Homo sapiens: one gene and its partners. The protein of the gene in region 1 interacts with the protein of each later gene in a pairwise test. Each region holds a gene or a part of one and is shown in the gene's direction. Other genes may lie near its edges.

The links. The genes of interacting proteins can lie anywhere in the genome.
Region 2: the proteins of INPP5D (region 1) and KHDRBS3 interact in binary tests that used the Homo sapiens proteins (3 or more experiments, as listed by UniProt).
Region 3: the proteins of INPP5D (region 1) and DAB1 interact in a two-hybrid assay, tested with the Homo sapiens proteins (one study listed by BioGRID).

What each region holds. Positions count from the first base shown.
Region 1 is NC_000002.12:233,203,283-233,208,458, forward strand, and holds the end of INPP5D (phosphatidylinositol 3,4,5-trisphosphate 5-phosphatase 1), read left to right. Parts: intron 1-843; coding exon 844-1,435; intron 1,436-3,423; coding exon 3,424-3,426; coding exon of another isoform or gene 3,427-3,475; 3' UTR 3,476-4,621; downstream 4,622-5,176. UniProt on the Homo sapiens protein: Phosphatidylinositol (PtdIns) phosphatase that specifically hydrolyzes the 5-phosphate of phosphatidylinositol-3,4,5-trisphosphate (PtdIns(3,4,5)P3) to produce PtdIns(3,4)P2, thereby negatively regulating the PI3K (phosphoinositide 3-kinase) pathways.
Region 2 is NC_000008.11:135,453,285-135,460,455, forward strand, and holds the start of KHDRBS3 (KH domain-containing, RNA-binding, signal transduction-associated protein 3), read left to right. Parts: upstream 1-4,171; 5' UTR 4,172-4,582; coding exon 4,583-4,670; exon of another isoform or gene 4,671-4,691; intron 4,692-4,748; exon of another isoform or gene 4,749-4,895; coding exon of another isoform or gene 4,896-4,899; intron 4,900-5,259; exon of another isoform or gene 5,260-5,619; coding exon of another isoform or gene 5,620-5,626; intron 5,627-7,171. UniProt on the Homo sapiens protein: RNA-binding protein that plays a role in the regulation of alternative splicing and influences mRNA splice site selection and exon inclusion. Binds preferentially to the 5'-[AU]UAAA-3' motif in vitro.
Region 3 is NC_000001.11:57,008,061-57,015,060, reverse strand, and holds part of DAB1 (disabled homolog 1), read left to right. Parts: coding exon 1-178; intron 179-363; exon of another isoform or gene 364-3,788; coding exon 3,789-3,916; exon of another isoform or gene 3,917-4,270; coding exon 4,271-4,366; 3' UTR 4,367-4,381; exon of another isoform or gene 4,382-7,000. UniProt on the Homo sapiens protein: Signaling adapter of the reelin-mediated signaling pathway, which regulates the migration and differentiation of postmitotic neurons during brain development.

The sequences.
Region 1 (5,176 bases):
GAGGAACCGGGAAAGGAGGCCTGTTGACTGGGGAGGTGGGAAGGGGCTGTGGAGAGCAGGCTCATCTGATGAGGATGAGGGGTTGATACTGAGGTGCCATGTAAGTTCTCACTTCATTTCTCCCACAAATCCTCCAGTGCCATGCCCCTTGCTCACAGATGCTCTGATGTGAACAGGTTTTATAGTGGAAAAGGTCCCAGGCCAGAACTGAGGCTGTCTTTGAGGACAACGTATGATGAACACAGTACTGTTTCCTCTTCCTTTTTTTCACTTGAGGTGAAATTCACTTAACATAAAATTAACCATTTCAAAATGAACAGTTTGCTAGGCTGGGCACAGTGGCTTATGCCCATAATCCCAGCACTTTGGGAGGCCAAAGTGAGAGGACTGCTTGAAGCGAAGAGTTCAAGACCAGCCTGGGCAATATAGTGAGACTCCCCATCTCTACAGAATAAAACAAAACTAAAAAATTAGCCAGGCCTGGAGGCATTGCTACTCCCAGCAATGTCCAGCTACTCCTAGCTACTCCCAGCTACTCCCAAGTAGTCTCAGCTACTTGGGAGGCTGAGGGGAAGGACTGCTTGAGCCCAAGAGGTTGAGGCAGCAGTGAGCCATGACCGCACCACTGCACTCCAGCCTGGGTGACAGAGCGAGACTCTGTCTCTAAAACAAAACAAGACAAAACAATTTGGTGCCATTCAGTAAATTTGCAATGTTACATGTCTCTATCTAGTTCAGAAACATTTGTATCACCCCAAAGAAAGACCCAGAGCCATTAAGCAGCCATGCTCCCATGTCTTCTCCCCTGGACATGTGTCTTCCCTGCTCTGTCCCTGGCTCTAGGCCCAGTGACCTGGGGAAGAACGCAGGGGACACGCTGCCTCAGGAGGACCTGCCGCTGACGAAGCCCGAGATGTTTGAGAACCCCCTGTATGGGTCCCTGAGTTCCTTCCCTAAGCCTGCTCCCAGGAAGGACCAGGAATCCCCCAAAATGCCGCGGAAGGAACCCCCGCCCTGCCCGGAACCCGGCATCTTGTCGCCCAGCATCGTGCTCACCAAAGCCCAGGAGGCTGATCGCGGCGAGGGGCCCGGCAAGCAGGTGCCCGCGCCCCGGCTGCGCTCCTTCACGTGCTCATCCTCTGCCGAGGGCAGGGCGGCCGGCGGGGACAAGAGCCAAGGGAAGCCCAAGACCCCGGTCAGCTCCCAGGCCCCGGTGCCGGCCAAGAGGCCCATCAAGCCTTCCAGATCGGAAATCAACCAGCAGACCCCGCCCACCCCGACGCCGCGGCCGCCGCTGCCAGTCAAGAGCCCGGCGGTGCTGCACCTCCAGCACTCCAAGGGCCGCGACTACCGCGACAACACCGAGCTCCCGCATCACGGCAAGCACCGGCCGGAGGAGGGGCCACCAGGGCCTCTAGGCAGGACTGCCATGCAGGTGCGCTGCGCCACACGTGGGTTCGTGTGCATTTGTGTGTGTGTGCATGCGTGAGTGCGTATGTGTGTACCTATGCATATGTGTGTGCATGTGTGTGTGCACGCATGCATATGTGCGTGCATGTGTGAACGCATGCATGTGCACACATGCGAGTGATGGTCCTGGGAACTGCTCCATGAGAAGGGAGAGTCAGGATTTGAACCCAGGTCTGCCTGTCCCACACATCCCTGACCCTGCATTGCCTCTGCAGCAGTTGTTAAAAGGAAGAAAGGCGGGGCTGTGGATAAACTTAGTCTAGTGTCAGTCCCAGAGGAAGAAGATTCCATAAAGAAAAGGAGCCTAAATCATTTATATCTCATTGTTATTATAAATTTGTTTTGCAACTGAGTTTCGCCAGGCACAGTGGATCACGAGGTCAGGAGATCGAGACCATCCTGGCCAACATGGTGAAACCCCGTCTCTACTAAAATACAAAAAATTACCCGGGCATGGTGGCGCACGCCTGTAGTCCCAGCTGCTTGGGAGGCTGAGGCAGGGGAATCGCTTGAACCTGGGAGGCAGAGGTTGTGGTGAGCCGAGATTGCGCCACTGCACTCCAGCCTGGTGACAAAGCAAGACTCCGTCTCAAAAAAAAAAAAAAAAAAAAATTAAAAAACAACAACAACGGAGTTTCACTCTTTGTTGCCCAGGCTAGAGTCCAGTGGTGTGATCTCGGCTCACTGCAACCTGCGCCTCCTGGGTTCAAGCGATTCTCCTGTCTCAGCCTCCCGAGTGGCTGGGATTACAGGCACCTGCCACCATGCCTGGCTAATTTTTGTATTTTTAGTAGAGATGGGATTTCACCATGTTGGCCAGGCTGGTCTCGAACTCCTGACCTCAGGTGATCTGCCTGCCTGGGCCTCCCAAAGTTCTGGGATTACAGGCATGAGCCACTGCACCCAGCCTCATTGTTATTATTAAGTCGCATTCATACTTGAAAATTTCCCAATATTTTGGAGAATTCAGCACACTTTCCCTCTCCTTCATGTAAAATAAAAAATTTTTTGAGCAAAACTAACAGTGATTAAGAACAGACTCCAGGCCGGGCGTGGTGGCTCATGACTGTAATCCCAGCATTTTGGGAGGCCGAGGTGGATGGATCACCTGAGGTCAGGAGTTCAAGACCAGCCTAACCAATATGGTGAAACCCTGTCTCTATTAAAAATACAAAAATTAGCTGGGCATTGTGGTGTGCACCTGTAATCCCAACTACTCGGGAGGCTGAGACAGGAGAATTGCTTGAACCCAGGAGGCGGAGGTTGCAGTGAACCGAGATCGCAACACTGCACTCCAGCCTGGGCGACAGAGTGAGACTCCATCTCAAAAAAGAGAACAGTCAGGCTATGTTGGATTTGAATCCCAGCCCTCCCACCTCCTGGCTCTGTGCCTTGAGCCTCAGTTTACCCATCTGTAAAAAGGGGCTGTTAATAGTACCTACCTCATAGACTTAGAAGGAGAATTGCATTGTAGGCTATTATGTATTATTACCATGTATTATCATCTATATAGAAATTATATATTTATATTTATGTATTTACATTGATATCCATTACATATCATTTCATATATATATACTATACATATTACATATGTGTATATATTTTATATATATATATGGTACGTACCTGGGTGTGGTGCCATGCACCTGTAGTCCCAGCTACTGGGGAGGCTGAGGCATGAGGCTAGCTGGAACCCAAGAATTCAAGGCTGCAGTGAGCTATGATTGCACCACTGCACTCCAGACTAGGCAACAGAGTAAGACCCCATTTCTAAAAAACAATTTTTTTAAATAAGCAGGTAAAGTACTTAGAGCAGTGAGTGCTGGCTCTTCTCAGCTACACGTTAAAGGAAGCCTGGCCTAGCCCACAGCATGCAGGGACCTGGGCCACTTAGTTCAACATGGCCTGGTGAGAATGAGCCCTGACAGCCCTTCTGTTCTTGTCCCACAGTGAAGCCCTCAGTGAGCTGCCACTGAGTCGGGAGCCCAGAGGAACGGCGTGAAGCCACTGGACCCTCTCCCGGGACCTCCTGCTGGCTCCTCCTGCCCAGCTTCCTATGCAAGGCTTTGTGTTTTCAGGAAAGGGCCTAGCTTCTGTGTGGCCCACAGAGTTCACTGCCTGTGAGACTTAGCACCAAGTGCTGAGGCTGGAAGAAAAACGCACACCAGACGGGCAACAAACAGTCTGGGTCCCCAGCTCGCTCTTGGTACTTGGGACCCCAGTGCCTCGTTGAGGGCGCCATTCTGAAGAAAGGAACTGCAGCGCCGATTTGAGGGTGGAGATATAGATAATAATAATATTAATAATAATAATGGCCACATGGATCGAACACTCATGATGTGCCAAGTGCTGTGCTAAGTGCTTTACGAACATTCGTCATATCAGGATGACCTCGAGAGCTGAGGCTCTAGCCACCTAAAACCACGTGCCCAAACCCACCAGTTTAAAACGGTGTGTGTTCGGAGGGGTGAAAGCATTAAGAAGCCCAGTGCCCTCCTGGAGTGAGACAAGGGCTCGGCCTTAAGGAGCTGAAGAGTCTGGGTAGCTTGTTTAGGGTACAAGAAGCCTGTTCTGTCCAGCTTCAGTGACACAAGCTGCTTTAGCTAAAGTCCCGCGGGTTCCGGCATGGCTAGGCTGAGAGCAGGGATCTACCTGGCTTCTCAGTTCTTTGGTTGGAAGGAGCAGGAAATCAGCTCCTATTCTCCAGTGGAGAGATCTGGCCTCAGCTTGGGCTAGAGATGCCAAGGCCTGTGCCAGGTTCCCTGTGCCCTCCTCGAGGTGGGCAGCCATCACCAGCCACAGTTAAGCCAAGCCCCCCAACATGTATTCCATCGTGCTGGTAGAAGAGTCTTTGCTGTTGCTCCCGAAAGCCGTGCTCTCCAGCCTGGCTGCCAGGGAGGGTGGGCCTCTTGGTTCCAGGCTCTTGAAATAGTGCAGCCTTTTCTTCCTATCTCTGTGGCTTTCAGCTCTGCTTCCTTGGTTATTAGGAGAATAGATGGGTGATGTCTTTCCTTATGTTGCTTTTTCAACATAGCAGAATTAATGTAGGGAGCTAAATCCAGTGGTGTGTGTGAATGCAGAAGGGAATGCACCCCACATTCCCATGATGGAAGTCTGCGTAACCAATAAATTGTGCCTTTCTCACTCAGCTGTGTGTGTGGCGTTTTTCCTGACATTCGGAGCCATAGATATCCTTCTAGATGGCAGGGCCTGCACAGGGCACAACTGAGGCAGTTAAGGGTTCATGGTGGTGATGGATGGTGTTGCCCTGACCAGATGGGACACCATAGAGCCAGTTTGAAGCTGGTCCTGGACTAGGAACAGGAGTAAACCGCACCCCTTCCTTCCTTCCACCCACACATCTTCCTGGCACTCCAAGCACCCTGCGGCCACCCAGAGGCCACGAGCATCCCCTCCAAACCTGCTGTCCTGCAGCCCACAAGTTCCTCCCAGCTTTTATAAGTTTTCACCACTTAAGCTGCAGTGACAAAAAAAACACGTCAACACTCCCCAGGTCATGGGTTCCCAGGTCAGGGAGTAGACCCCCGCCCAGAGGCACAGTGCGGGCCACTTCCACGGCGCCTCTGCCCCACCTTGGGCTGCCTGGCCTCTGCTTCTGCTCACAGACACCAGGCCTGGGCTCCAGGCAGGGCCTGGAGCCGTGTCTTTGGCAGCCTCCAAGCAAACCATTCACTCCCAAGCC
Region 2 (7,171 bases), on another chromosome or scaffold:
ATGACAAATGAATTGGCCTCAGATGGCTGGGTAGCATTGCTGTTCCGGGACTGCATTTTGGGAGACACGGATCCAGAATGAATGCTGAGTGCTTGCTGTGAACTGACCTCTGGACCAGGCACTGGGGCTGGGCAGCTGAGCAGGCTCTGAGGACAGTGTGAAGGCAAAGGGGTCCACAGATGACGAGGACCAGATGTGTTAAGTGTGAACAGGAGCACAAACAATGCTGGTGGAGAGGACAGAGAGTGGAAAAGCTTTAAAATGCACATGGTGCCTATGTGAGCTTAATGCTTCAATTTCAACCTCAAAATGATCCTGTGAGGAGGATAGTAAGCAAGGCAGCTGGGGCCAAGCCGAGGTCTCTCTGGCCTTTGGTACAGTCGGATTAGGATTTCACAGTATGGCACTGCAGAGTTTTGGAGTAACTGGGATAGGATCCACCTTTCTTAAACAAAATGAAGAGGAAGCTTGTGGTGTGAACAGCAGTGAGAAGCTTGTAGTGTGAGCAGCAAATATGAAAACTTCCTCATAGACACACTCCCTACATTTTGTGTCTCCTCTGATGACACTGAGTTTGCTGCAGCTGTGTCTGACTTATTGCAGTTAGTGTCATAAAGGCCAAGGACTTGTCTTTCTCTCTCCAGGAGTCAGTAGGTGGGTGAAGAGGAGGCAGGTGTGGATTCTGGCAGACAGCGCTATGGCAGTGGGCTGGGGCCACAGGGACTTGCTGTGTTCTCAGAGATGGCCCAGTGTCACTGAGTGGGGTGGGTTTGGGAAGTACCCTTTTGTCTCTGGGGCTGAGAAGCTAGTCCCAGACCTGGATGTGAGAAGAAAGAGCAGCCACAGTTCCTTATTGCAGTGCGGGGCTTCCCGTCCAGACCTGAGCGCCTGGTCAGTCTAACCACAAACTCTGCAGATGGAGTAAGCAGCCCCAGTGCCCTGGCCTTAAGGGCCTTTGGAGAAGTCTGTTCTGTCCATGGCTATGTCCCCTGTACCCAGAGCAGTCTCTGCACATAGTATGTGCTCAGTGAGTACTGGTGTATTCTAGAGAGACCTCTTTTGGCCTGGAAGCCAAAAGACCTGAGTGTGAATACTACCTGCAGCTGCTTGTAGGAAAATCACCGGCTTTCCCAAGACCTGATTTCTCCTTTTCAAAAGAATCAGAGGGTTAGCGCCTGCAGGAAGGTGATCTCATGAAGATGAGCGGAGTGTGCAGCACAGCATGGAGGTGCCCCACAGCCAACGGCTCAGCCAGGTTGGTGGGTGGGGACAATTTCCTGAGCATCTCACAGAGACATTCATCTCCCTCCTCCCCGGAGGACCCTGCATGAGCACTCACAGCGTTTGGCACCTGCCTTCTTGGAAGGTTCTCGGAGAAGGAGGGTCTGGAGCAGAAGATTCAGTGCCCTTGCTGTCAGTTTCCCAGTGCATAGCCCTCCTCCACAGCTGCTGGTGGACTGACTGCCAACTCAGATCAGGGAGGGATGAAGAGCCAGTCAGGAGTGTTCCAGATTGCTACCTGGGAAGGCAGAACCAGGAAGGGAGAGAAAGAAGGGTCAGAGAGTCAGGTGGGCCTGGGATCCCCGCCGACAGCTGTGGAGCCTTAAGCAAGGTGGTATTAAACTGTCCCGGGCCTCAGTTTCCTTCTTTGTAAGTGGTGATCAATAGAATTTTCCTTACAGGGTGTTGCGAGAACCATAGTGAATCCTAAGTCATAAACATAGGGCTGGCACTTAATAAAAATAGTGATTACTCAAGGTCTGGACTGTCACCGGGGCAGATGGTCTGAATGGAAGACACAGAGGGAGAAGAGCTGTTAGAAGAGAGAGAGTCTAAGTGTTCCAATGAAGCCGCTGGGCATCCAGGCCCCATTGTCCTCTTCTAGCCTCATCCCAAACATTCTCTGTCCCCCTTTCCCCCTTTACAAGCAGCTGTCAGGGAACCCTACCATAGAATGTAAGTTCTGTGACACAGGAATATAAGCCAGAGGTGTATGCTTCCCTTCAGTTGTAAAAGGAAAAGACATTGTCCTATGAGTCCCTCCTGTTGTCCAGCAGGACTACTGGCATACCCCTGGTTTTGGGGGTGTGGACTGGGAAGCTCAGGCTCTAAGTTAATTAACAAAGTGGCATAGTGAGGCAGGTAGCAGCCAGGATGCAGGCATCCAGACTCCTGCCCTTCTGGGTGAGGGTGGTTTGGGAAGTGCCCTTTTTGTTTCTGGGGCTGAGAGGCCAGTCATAGACCTGGGATTGAGAAGAGCAGCCACAAGCAGCCTACAAGCCTGACGCTGGGCCCAGGTCAGAAACAGAGGTGCGACAGTCACAGGTCCTTCACTCAGTTGGCCAGGCCGGGGCGAAGCACCACGACCAGCAGTGAGGAGTCCACAGATGGGTGTCTGCCCAGCATCCCTGGAGTTACAGCTGAAGGGAAGGCGAGGGAGGCTCAGAAGGCCCAGAGGACAGCCTTGCAGCCGGAAAAAACCCAAAGCAAAGATCAGCTCAGCATTTCCGATAGGCAGAGTGCTGTTTTGGGTATTTCATTATGAGTTAACATATTTATTCTCATGAACTTCTTATGAAATAAGTTTGGTTGTCATCTCCACTTGACGGATGAGGACCCTGAGGTGAAGAAACTTGCCCAAGGTCACAGCTAGTGAGCAGCAGATCCATGATTCCAAATCCAGGCTGTTTAACCCCAGAGGCTTTGCTTTTAACTGTGCCATTTTTCTGCTTCTTGCAAGTTGAGACTGAAGAGAGCCATGAAGAAGACTCTTACTGGGGACTCTGAAATGACACCTTAGCCGGGGGAGGAGTGGAGCCTTGAGAGTGAGGGCAGTTGAGTACTCGGGTCTGGGACTTAGAGCTTCCAAGATTTCTACCACCTCCCACTCCCCTCGGGTTTGTAAAGCTGCCTCCATTTGCATTGGGAGTGCGGGGGGGCTGCCTGGGGGACTGTGGCGATTGTCCTCAGGCTATTGGCTGAGAGTGGTATGCCACTGACTTATTCCTCCAAGAGACATTTCCAGTACCCTCCATCCCTGCCCCCTGTACTACACACTGGTGACCTTCCCCCTCAAAAACAAAACTCAAACTCTGTCCCTGATGCTCATGGTCTACTGAAAACAGAATTACAGCTGTCTGTGAATGACCTCTGACCAAGCTGGGGGGACACAGAGAAGGGACTTGTGACTTGCTTTGCCAGGGAGGTCCTGAGAGGCTGTCCAGGGAAGGTGACATTGAGGCCGGGACTTGAGCTGGCTGTTTGAAGGCAGGAAAAATGGCAGGGCAAGGACTGGAGTCCTTCGCCTTCCTGGGGGACGTTTATTCCACATGCCTCGGGAAATCTGAAATGGCCTTGGAGAGCATTTGCTGGGGGTTGGGGGTGGGCGGAAGGGGACAGAGAGCATTGCCACCGACAGGCGGGGCGTCCCAGGGCCTCTCCCCAGGAGCGGATGAGCTCAGACGCGGCTCACTCAGCTGTGTCCAGGCACAGCCGGTTTATGACCTAAGAGAATGACAACCCAGGAGCAAGTCGGGATGACAAAGACGCCCAGAAGGGCACGCGCTTTTATGTAACCGACCTCTGAGCTGGCGGATCTCAGGAGGTTGGCGCTCTGAGCTCAGGCGCGGAGAAAGGACGGCGCCCCTGCCTTACTCTCTTATAAGTACGAGGGGACAGCAACGCGACATAACTTAGAGAAGTCCAGGAAGCTTTAGAGAGCAGGGCGGTCCCGCTGCTATTCCTCAGAGCGCGACTGGGGCGAACTGGGGCGCCCTTCCCAGCTCCAGCTCGGCCCTTGTCCCCTCTTCCCAGGATCACTCGCTGGGTGACCTTGGGCGAGCCACTTGACTTCTCTGAGCCCCAGTTTCCCAGTCCGTGCATCTGAAAGGCTGTAATAGCGTCGTGGGGCTCCCCACTCGGCCCTCAGGGCCAAAGGTGGGCGCCGGACACGCGGGAGGGGCCCTTGGACGCACCCCCTCTCGCAAACGCCCGGTTAGTCCCGGCGGACTCGCAGTGGAGAGCGGCCCCAGGAGGCGGCGGGCGGCGGGGCGGTGGGCGCCAGTGCGCAGGCGCGGCGCGGCAGGGCGGGGCGGCGGGCGCGGGGCGGGGCGGGGCGGAGCCGGGCGGGGCGGGGCCGGCGGCAGGCGCTGGGCGCTCGGCGCGGTGGCTCAGAGTGCGCGGGGCGGCGCGCGGCGTGCAGGTCGCAGCTGTGGCTCGGGTGCTGGCAGGTGCTGGCGGGACTGGCGGGGATCGCCGTGGACTGCCTCAGGGGCGCCGCAGCCCGCTCGGCCCGAGGGCCCGCCTAACCGCGCCGCCCGCGCCCGCTCCTCCTCGGCCCGCGCCCGGAGCGCGGGGGCCGCCGGCGCTGGGTACTCGGCGGCCACCGGGGATCGGGGCTGAGCGGTCGGTTCCCGCCCCCGTGCCGCCGCCGCCGCCTTCCGGCCGACCGCCCGGCTTGGCCGCTGCTGCCGCGTCTGGCCCCCGGGTCCCCGCCGCTGGGGGCGCGGGCGGGGTCGGGGGTTGCCGGGCGCCGCCCCCCGTGCGCCTGGAGTCCACATCCCGGGCCCGGCGGCCGGCGAGCATGGAGGAGAAGTACCTGCCCGAGCTGATGGCGGAGAAGGACTCCCTGGACCCCTCCTTCACGCACGCCCTGCGCCTGGTGAACCAAGGTGAGGCGCCGGCCGTTAACTGCCGGCCGGCGGCGGTTGGGGGCCGGGTGGAAACGCGGGGGCCCAGGGGGCCCCTCCGTGCCCTCTGCTGTCAGCGGACGCGGCGGAGACGGAGGCCCGGGTGGCCCCCGGGGTCGTTTGCACGGGGACCTGGGAGGCTGTGGGACACCTAGGGGAAGACCCTGATGTGAATTTTGGGGACTTGGAAGGAGAAGGCTGGGGCGCATGGGTGAGACTTGAAGGAAATCTTTGGGGACTCGGGCACACCCAGGGGAAACTTCTGGGTGGGGGACAGCGACCATCTGGGGGCTTCGTTGGGAACGAGGTTGAATTATGTCATGGAAGGGGAGCGTGTTGGACTCGGGGAAGTAGGGCGTTTGGTTTGTCTAAGGTACTGGAGAAAAAGCTGGAGGAAAATGGAAGGACTTGAGGGACTCAAATGCAGAAGAGGTGAAGGGAACAGGTGCTTGCATTGTTAGCGAAGTTTGGGGACCTTGGAAGAGGGTTGGGGTCAGACCCCAGCACCTGAGAGGAGAGGAGCTCCGTGGTCCCAGGGGAGGAGCCCAGTTCCCCCTCCCAGCCCTTTGTCTCTCCTGTGTCCAGGCTCCAACAGCCCTGGCGGGGCAGTCAGCCCTCCCAGGGGATGGGCAGCCCATGCCAAGCCTTGCAGGCTGGCCCTTGGAGAAGTCAGTAGGGGAGAAGAGGCCGGCAAAAGAGCACCGTTCCGGAGGGCGTTGGGTTGGGTGACCCTCATTGGTGGCTGGCTTGAGGTTCGGAATAGTGGTGAAGGGAGTCCTTGCCATTTTCACACGACTCCAGCCAGCTCAGGGTGTGAAAGATCCTAGGAAGTACTGCGGGTCAGGGATACAGAGATTTCTGGAGGCACGCCTACCCGGGACAGTGTTCCCCTGGCTTTTTCCTCCTGTGGCTTCCTGAATCATCTGCTGGCATGCACGGTAAATTAAGCCTTCCTTCCTGGGAGCAGTCTCCTACTTTTCCTGGAATATGTGTTTCAGATGAAGATGGGTGTGGGTGCCACTGGTCTGTCTTTTCTCTGGGAAATGGCAGCAACATGATCTGGTCAGATCTGTTACCTTTTGCAGGAATTACTGTGCACTGACAGTCTGTGGTTCCCTAGATGAATCGGATCTGCTGCTCTTAGTGCTCGCCCTGGCTTTTTTATTGTTGGAAGTGAAAGATGAGGCAGACATATTCTATTTGTATATAGATACCTATATTTTAAAACAGTGACCTCCAGTTTTTGCCTGTTTCAACCAGTTCTTCAGAGTAGAGTGTGTGTGTGGTTGACCGATGGTGGAGGAGAGACTCTTTACTGTCTCCAAGAATTTAAGAATATTTGAATTGTTGAACAGAAATAGACTTATGGAGCTCCCTCATTTTATTTTAATTGCAGGCTTATTTTTATTTCTTTAATAAAATGGGCTTGTGAAAAAGTGAATGGGCATGCATTCCTAAATAAAAGAAAAAAAATTAAGTTTTATTTCTATGCCCTCTGAACAGTTCTGCAGTTGAGTTTGTACTCCTGTGCCTGATGATTTACATGTATCTTTTATTGCCTGCTGGGCTGTCATCTCTGTGAAAGAAATTTCTTCATACATTGCATGAGATCCGTGGCATTGGAAATATTCTGGACTGTGGACTCAAGTGCATTTTTCCTAATAAAGTAGCTGAATCAAAGTTAGGTTGTACTCAATTAAGGAACAGTTAAACTGAAAGTACAGTGCGTTATCTTATTTTAAAAGTCAGAATTATTTTCTCTGCCGTGTTGCCATAGTATTGTGTTGCTAAAACGTCCAAAATTCTTTTGGATTCTGTGTTTTTACCAGTGTTAATGGCTTCCAGTTACTTGAAACAGATATTTACTGGGGAAATGTTGCCATTTAGTGTTTTTTAGGTATTCAACTTGATAAACTTACTTTTCATAGAAGTAATTCTTATAAGAAGTATATTTCTCACATGTGAAGGAAGGAGGAGGTGCTGCTCAGAATCTTGTCTTACTGTTAGTTTAGATGACTTCAGACTGAAACATTTTTCTCTTAAATCACAGGCTGATATTCGGAATGCAGAGCTTTATCATTTAAAACATTAATTACACGCTTATGTAACTGCAAAATTACAAGTGTTTTAAATCTGAAGCTACATGATTGTGAGGAAGCTTTGATTTTAAATCCAACCATCTTGTTATGGGCTATTTTTTCTTATTTAGTTATATTTGTGTTTGCCTCTAATGCAACTGTGTTTTCAGCAGTTATTCACATTGGAGTTGGTATTTCAGCACTAAATTGTAGAATGGGCCAGCATGGCAAACCTTAGCGTGCCATGTAATAGATATGTTTTATGGTATCTCTAAACTCTAACAAGGCCTTACATTTGCATAGTATTTTAAAGTTTCCAAGGCACTAGTTTTGTCCTCACACTTGCATTCCGGTAAGGCAGATGTTCATGTCTTCTCTTTTCAGGAAGGCAGCTGAGGATCCCAG
Region 3 (7,000 bases), on another chromosome or scaffold:
CCTCCGCCCGTGCCCTCCCGCAAACCCGACCAGCCCTCCCTCACCTGTACCTCAGAGGCCTTCTCCAGTTACTTCAACAAAGTCGGGGTGGCACAGGATACAGACGACTGTGATGACTTTGACATCTCCCAGTTGAATTTGACCCCTGTGACTTCTACCACACCATCGACCAACTCACGTGAGTGCCCCTCACTTAAGACATAAAACCCAATGAGAGCCGTAACTCATGTCTGGAGGCGGGGTTTCTGGAGTCAAATAACTCATCTCACTTGCATTAATCAGGCTTCTTTGTTTATATTATTATTACTAGTAATACTACTATGAGCTGCCAATTTAGATACCACTGATAACATACAAACCTTCTTCATATGTTCCATGTTTATTTTTAGACTTATAATAATGCTTAATGATAAATTTTGTTAGACCTGTTTGACAGATAATGAAAGTGAGGCTCAAAGATGAAGACAATAGACAAAGTGGTATTGAATTGAATGTAAGCCTGGTATTTTTCCACCATGTTACTCTGCCTCTTAAGATTTTGTTTGTTTGCTCATTCATTCGTTCATTTATTTACGTATAGATAGCTTATGACACACAGATTTTGGCGTGGCTTATTGAAATAAAATGAATGCAAACTTTAAAAATTTGGGGAACAAGTTTTAAACATTAGAATATAAAATAAGGATCAAGAGAAAACTTAGGGCAGAGATACGCAGCCATAAGGTCTTAAATAGCTTTTATAGTTGAAGCCTCATTTTGGGTTAAAGCTTCTGGTAGTTAAAGGGAACAAAAAGATAGTGCTGCAGAAAGTTCTGGACTGGGAACCTGGAGATCAGATTTATTACTGACCAGTTTTGTGCCTTTTGGCAAAGCACTTTATTTCTATGAGCCTTGGTTTCCTCATCTGTGTAAGCGATGGGTTATTAAAAGGATTCAATGGTATATGTGCTCAAACATTATAGAACTCCCAGAATTTGAAGTATCTTTTATCCTCATTATTAGCACATGTTAAGTGTTTTTTTGCAGTCCTGGACCAGAGTTCTGGTGTTGACTCCTCCACCACAAGCTGTGTCTTTGGGCAAGCGTATGACTTCTCTGAGACTCAGTTTTATCATTGGTAAAATAAGTGAATTGGCTTGGATGAGCAGTGTGCATCCTTCTAGTTCCAGCTTTCAGTGAGTCTCCTCCAGCTCATATTTCTTCTGCAAACATCTGGAAAACAGTGACTGTGCAGCCAAATCAGAATCCAGATACACTTGAGCACATGTACACTTGTTTGACACAATTCAGGGAAGGTGTTCTGATGACTCAGCCTGTGCCTTGACACCTGATAAGAGGAAAGAAAAGGCTCATGCTGCAGTGAGTTTGGCGGTTTCATTACTGTCACAGGTGATATGGATCACTGCATGGCCAATACTGTGAACTGTCAAAAAAAAACACCCCTAATGTTAATACAATTAGATTGTGCCATTTCAGCCAGGTTCAGAATGCTATTCTGAAAATGAATGCCCTTAACGTGTATAAACAACCCACTTGCACTCAGGCCATATGATCTACATAGTGGCAGCATCTCTATTTATGCAGACTCACAGGGTTTCAATGAGGAATAATGAATAAAAAATGAAATGTTAAAGAAATGACAGCCATGCATAAATAAGCAAGCATCTTTTTAAAAACAAACATCTCTCTTTCAATGGACTTGTGTGCCAGCTACAAATGAAAGAGGAGAGTTTAAGTTCTTTGAGGGCAGGAACTGGCTCCATCATTCCTACACTTCTCATAATGCTAGCTTAGTGCCTGGGACATGAGAGGCATTTGGGAAAGGTTATAGAGAATGAAATAAACAAAATGGAGATGACTTAGCTACTGTTATGTTTTAGAGCATCGTTGGCAACCTCGGCACTATGGACATGTTGGGCCAGATAATTCTTTGTTTCAGAGGCTGTCCCATTGTAGGATGTTTAGCAGCAACGCTGGCCTCTAATCACTCTATGAGAGAAACGTATATCCCCTTCCTCTAGTGTCGAGAAAAATGACTCCAAGCATTGCCAAATGTACCCCAGGGATGAAATTGCCCCAGACTGAGAACCACTGCTTTAGAGTATTAGCAGCATCCTATAAAGCCTTCTAAAGATTAAGACACCTGCATAAATAAACTCCTGCTTATGCTTTCCATTGATTTCATTAGGTAAGTCTGAGCAGTATACCTGCCAGAACTGGCAACTCAGCTTGTGTTCTCAACCTTTAGTAAGCAAAAATCCACTTCAAATACAATTCAGGATCTAATTAAGCTAATATTTATTAAACATCTACTACCCTTCAGGGTGTTTGCATATAGCTTTAAACCCACTTTCAATACAGTTTGTTCCATAGTCATCTCCTGAAACAAAACAGATTTCATTGCAAATTTTTTTCCAAAAACTTGCTGTTTTATTTTGAACAAAATTAGAACCAGTCTTTATATCCTCTGACCCATCAGTATCCCCTTAAGAATGTTTTGGGAAGAGGATTGGTTGGATCAAAAGTGAACCTCAAATAGAAACAGAAAAGCACAGTTGGACTGGATAGTGTCAGACAGAGCTCTGTTAAATGCCAGTGCTGCTATTTCATAGCTGTGTTAACCCTTCGCAAGACACCTCACCTCCCTGAGCTGCAATTTCTCCATCTGGGAAACAAAAAAGTTATGATAACAACTTGCAGGTATTTATATTAAGGTGTATAATGAATGGGAAGTGCCTAGCACAGTGTCCAACTCATTGGCACATTATAAATAATAAGTTAGGAAATAGCATCATCTTTCTATATATAGATTCATCAGAGTAAAAAGTATGCACTAAGTTTTACAATCATTCACTGTCTGATTTCTAAGTTCTATAACATTAGGAAAATTCAGCTGCTAAATGAAGTCATGCCACCCTCTCACTTGGGTCTTAGCCAGTAACCAGTATTTTCAGTGACAAATTAGAATTTATTAAAAGAAGAGTGGTATCAAATGGCATATTTGTTCTAAACCTCTAAAACAAATGAGAGGAGATGTGGGTGGGTCAGCCCAGAAAATGCGTATCCTTTGTCCTTATAGAATCAAGTACCAGCTGTGAAGTTGCCATCAGCTACATCCATTTTCCCAGATCACTGAGACACTTTCTCTTTATTCAACATGTGTTTATTGAATACCTCCTATGTGCCAGGATTCAGAATCTGGTTCTACCAGTTGCCATGAGCAAATTAGCAAACTTCACTTTCCTTACCTGTCAAATTAGGATAACCTCTACCTCAAAGATGTTTTATGAGGATTAGAGATATTGTCTGTAAAGTTTCTAACAGTGTTTGACACATGAAAGGCGCTCAATAACGTGCCCTCTGATGAAACACAGAAAGAAGAAAGCAAACCATAGCCCAGTAGTTCTCAGCTTGATCATGCATCAGAATAACCTGTAGCAGGTTGTTCAAACACAGAGTCTGTGATTCAGTAGATCTGGGGTAGGGTCAGAAAATTTCATTTCTAACAAATTCCCAGATGCTACTGCTGCTGCTTGTCCAAGGACCATCCTTTGAGAACCACTGCCTTACCTATCAGTGTGGACGAGCTCCTTCCTGAAGTCAGATGTGTGAGAGGAAAGATCAATACGTACAGAGAGAGAATTCAAATATTCAACTGATTCCACTGGAAATAGGAAGAGGAATCCTAAGATTTGACTTCAATATAAGCAGATTCCTGAGGTTTCTTTGGGATACATTCATGGCAGCCAGGCACTTAAGATGTCTCTTTTTCTGTGGTCTCTGTGTAGCTCCAACCCCAGCCCCTAGACAGAGCTCTCCATCCAAATCATCTGCATCCCATGCCAGTGATCCTACCACAGATGACATCTTTGAAGAGGGCTTTGAAAGTCCCAGCAAAAGCGAAGAGCAAGAAGCTGTAAGTGACCAGTTTGTTATTTGTTTGTGTTTTTCCTTAAAATTAAGACCTCTGTAACTGAAATGGATAATGCATGAGGAAGCCTACATAGAAAAGAATGCTGGCTCAATCTCATAAGTTCTCAAGGGGTTGCTAAAGGGGCTTTCTTTTGTGTTCAAATGAGTCAGCTGAAAAGGACTGCCTTTTTATTAAATTGTTACTACAAGTCCACATTTGTGGTGTAGCATCCTCTAAATGCCGTTGCACCCTCCTTTACAATAACTGATTGTGCTGCATGAAAGTATATCCAGGTGTCTTATATTTTCAATGCTTGAAAAGAGAGAAAAAAAAAAGTATTATCTTCTTGTGTTCTAGCCTGATGGATCACAGGCCTCATCCAACAGTGATCCATTTGGTGAGCCCAGTGGGGAGCCCAGTGGTGATAATATAAGTCCACAGGCCGGTAGCTAGATAGCGCAGGTCTGGGTAGGTATCTGTCCTTTTTATCTCCTTTACCCTTAAGCTATCTGCTTTCCCTTTTGGTTGTTCTTCACTTCTGAAGCCACATCCTCAATGTTTGCACCATGTCTCCTTGCCTGAGCTGTATTGCTGATGTTTGCACCATCGCTCCTTCCCTGAACTGTATTCCTGATGTTTGCACTATTTCTTCTTGCCTGAGCTATATCACCAGTGTCTGCACCATGTCCCTTTGCCTGGTGTCTACGTTCTACTTTGCCTTTTCTCATGGATGCATGACCTTTGACATATCCTGGGAGGTAGGGGTAGGGGTGAGAAGTGGGAACTGATCATATTATTTTATTAATAATATGTTCTGCGTGGTTGGTGGTGATAGAATGAGGCATGGTCCATGCTACTTAGCATGCATTTAGTTTCTGGAAGCATCAACATTTTGAGATGGACACATTCTGCCCACCCTGATAATTTCTCAGTGAGCCATGGTCCAGATGCTTTAATCTTTTAAGCAAAATGTCACTGCATTTGCCTACAGTCTGCAGATCTAAAGAGGTCACCAATCAAACACACAGAGAAGCCAGACTAAGAAGCAAAAACAAGCAGTGCTTGAAATAAGATTGATCGAGATGTAAGATCAGAGGAAGCCCTTTTCGTCTAGCCAGAAAGGACCCTGCACCCTGCATCCTTTCTGATGTGAAATTCAAAGCCCAGAGATGTGTAGCACTCACTTCTGAGGCTGTGCTGTTTGCACCTGTGCTGCAGCATGTGGATTGCCACCAAATCACTTCAGATTCCATCAGCAGCTACTTTGAGAGAGATGTACTTACATTTACTAGAAGTGGCTTTTGGCACTTGAATTTCAATACATCTGATTTGATCGAAAGAAAGAGGAGCTGATGAAGCAAACCTTCTTAGGAGACAGAAGTACACCTTGTTACCCAGACATGATTTCTAAGGTCACTTCTTGACAAACGTGTTCAATTTTCAGATACCTTCTTAGTTTTCTATAAACACACAGGACTGCAAGGCCATTCCCAAAAGGCTCCTTTTTTAAGTTCTGAACAGCATGGTCAAAACCATTAAAATGGTAAACAGTTTTCTCCACTCATAAATGGATTCGGAGGCTACCTCATAAATGGATTCTGAGGCTACCTCAGAATTAGTCTTAGCCCACACGTAAGTTAGACAGTTACTGAAAGCTAATATGGTATTTTGAAAGTGTATTTTGTTAACAGGTATTTTTATTAAAGAACCTAACACACTGTGTAGGTTGCCACATTTTGTATCAGTGCAATAGCACATAATAATATGTCATGCCATGCAAAACCACCTACGATTCACTTAGAAGTTCACTCTTGCAAAGCTACTTCGGGAGTTGATATATTGAAAGCAAAGTCAATGTTTCAGGAAAAAGAAAAGTTGGGGACTATAGGCAGACTCCTTGGGATGATTCCCCACGAGGTATTTTACCCCCCGCCTAAGTTGTATTTCACGTGCTCAACCTTGCCTTGAAAAATTTGGTGAATAAACTAGAGGTGACAAGAGCCATTCATCAGGATAACAGCAAACATCATCCTAAAATTGAAGTTCTTCTAGAAAACAAAGATGACTTACACCATTTGCAGATCAATGTATTAAACCCTCATCTTTATGAACCTGTTCAGCTTGAGACAATCCTACAAGCCAAACTGTTTCATGGGGCTTTGGTCTGTTCCACATTTAATGCTCTGTCCAGTACCCCAAGCCACAGCTGAGCTGTAAATGGACATAGCATAGTAGTGTGGGAAGAACTCAGGATTTGGACTTGAGTTTAAATCCTAACTCAGCTACTTAATAGTGGGAAATCTTGGGCAAGAACCAAAATTTGAGTCTTGGTTTCTTCATCTGCTAGAAGGGGCTTATATTCTCCATAATGGTAACTGAGATAGTTTATGTTGAGTATCTAGCGCAGAGACAGACACTGAGTAATCAGCTTAAAATTCAGCTTAAAAAAAATATCTAGGTTCTGGAACAACATTGTTTGAGTTCAGCATCTGGCTCCACCACTTCCTGGCTATGTGACACTGCTGTGATTTTATAATTATTCTCTATCTTATTTTCTTCATTTGAAAAATAAGGATAAAAATAGTGTCCACCTCATAGGGTTATTATGTGAACTAAATAAAGTGATATATGTGAAGCTCTTAGCACTGTGTATAGCACATAGAAAGCACCTAATAGATGCTAGCTACCCTCATCATCACCATCACCATCATCATTATCATCATCATTATCATCATCACATATATCCAATTAATGCACGCTCCCCACTCTCTTGGATTTTATACATTTAGCTTTCATGTATAAGACCATTGGTTGGGAGGTTTTGCTTTGTACTTTGTCTTCAGATAATTAATTTTCAATATGTGTCACAACAGCTTTGGAAGGGAAAAAAAGAAAAAAGCCTGCTGCTTAGCTCTCTGGCTTGCCCCACCCCATAATCAGAATGGCCCTGGTTTGGGCCTCACACAGCTCACTGCCAAAAAATGGGCTGTCTTAGAATCACATGCAAGTCAAAATAAGTACCTCCCAGCTCCAGAGGAGGGCTGGACTGTAATCTTCGGTGAAGTAATTTTCTCCCTTTGAAAGCTT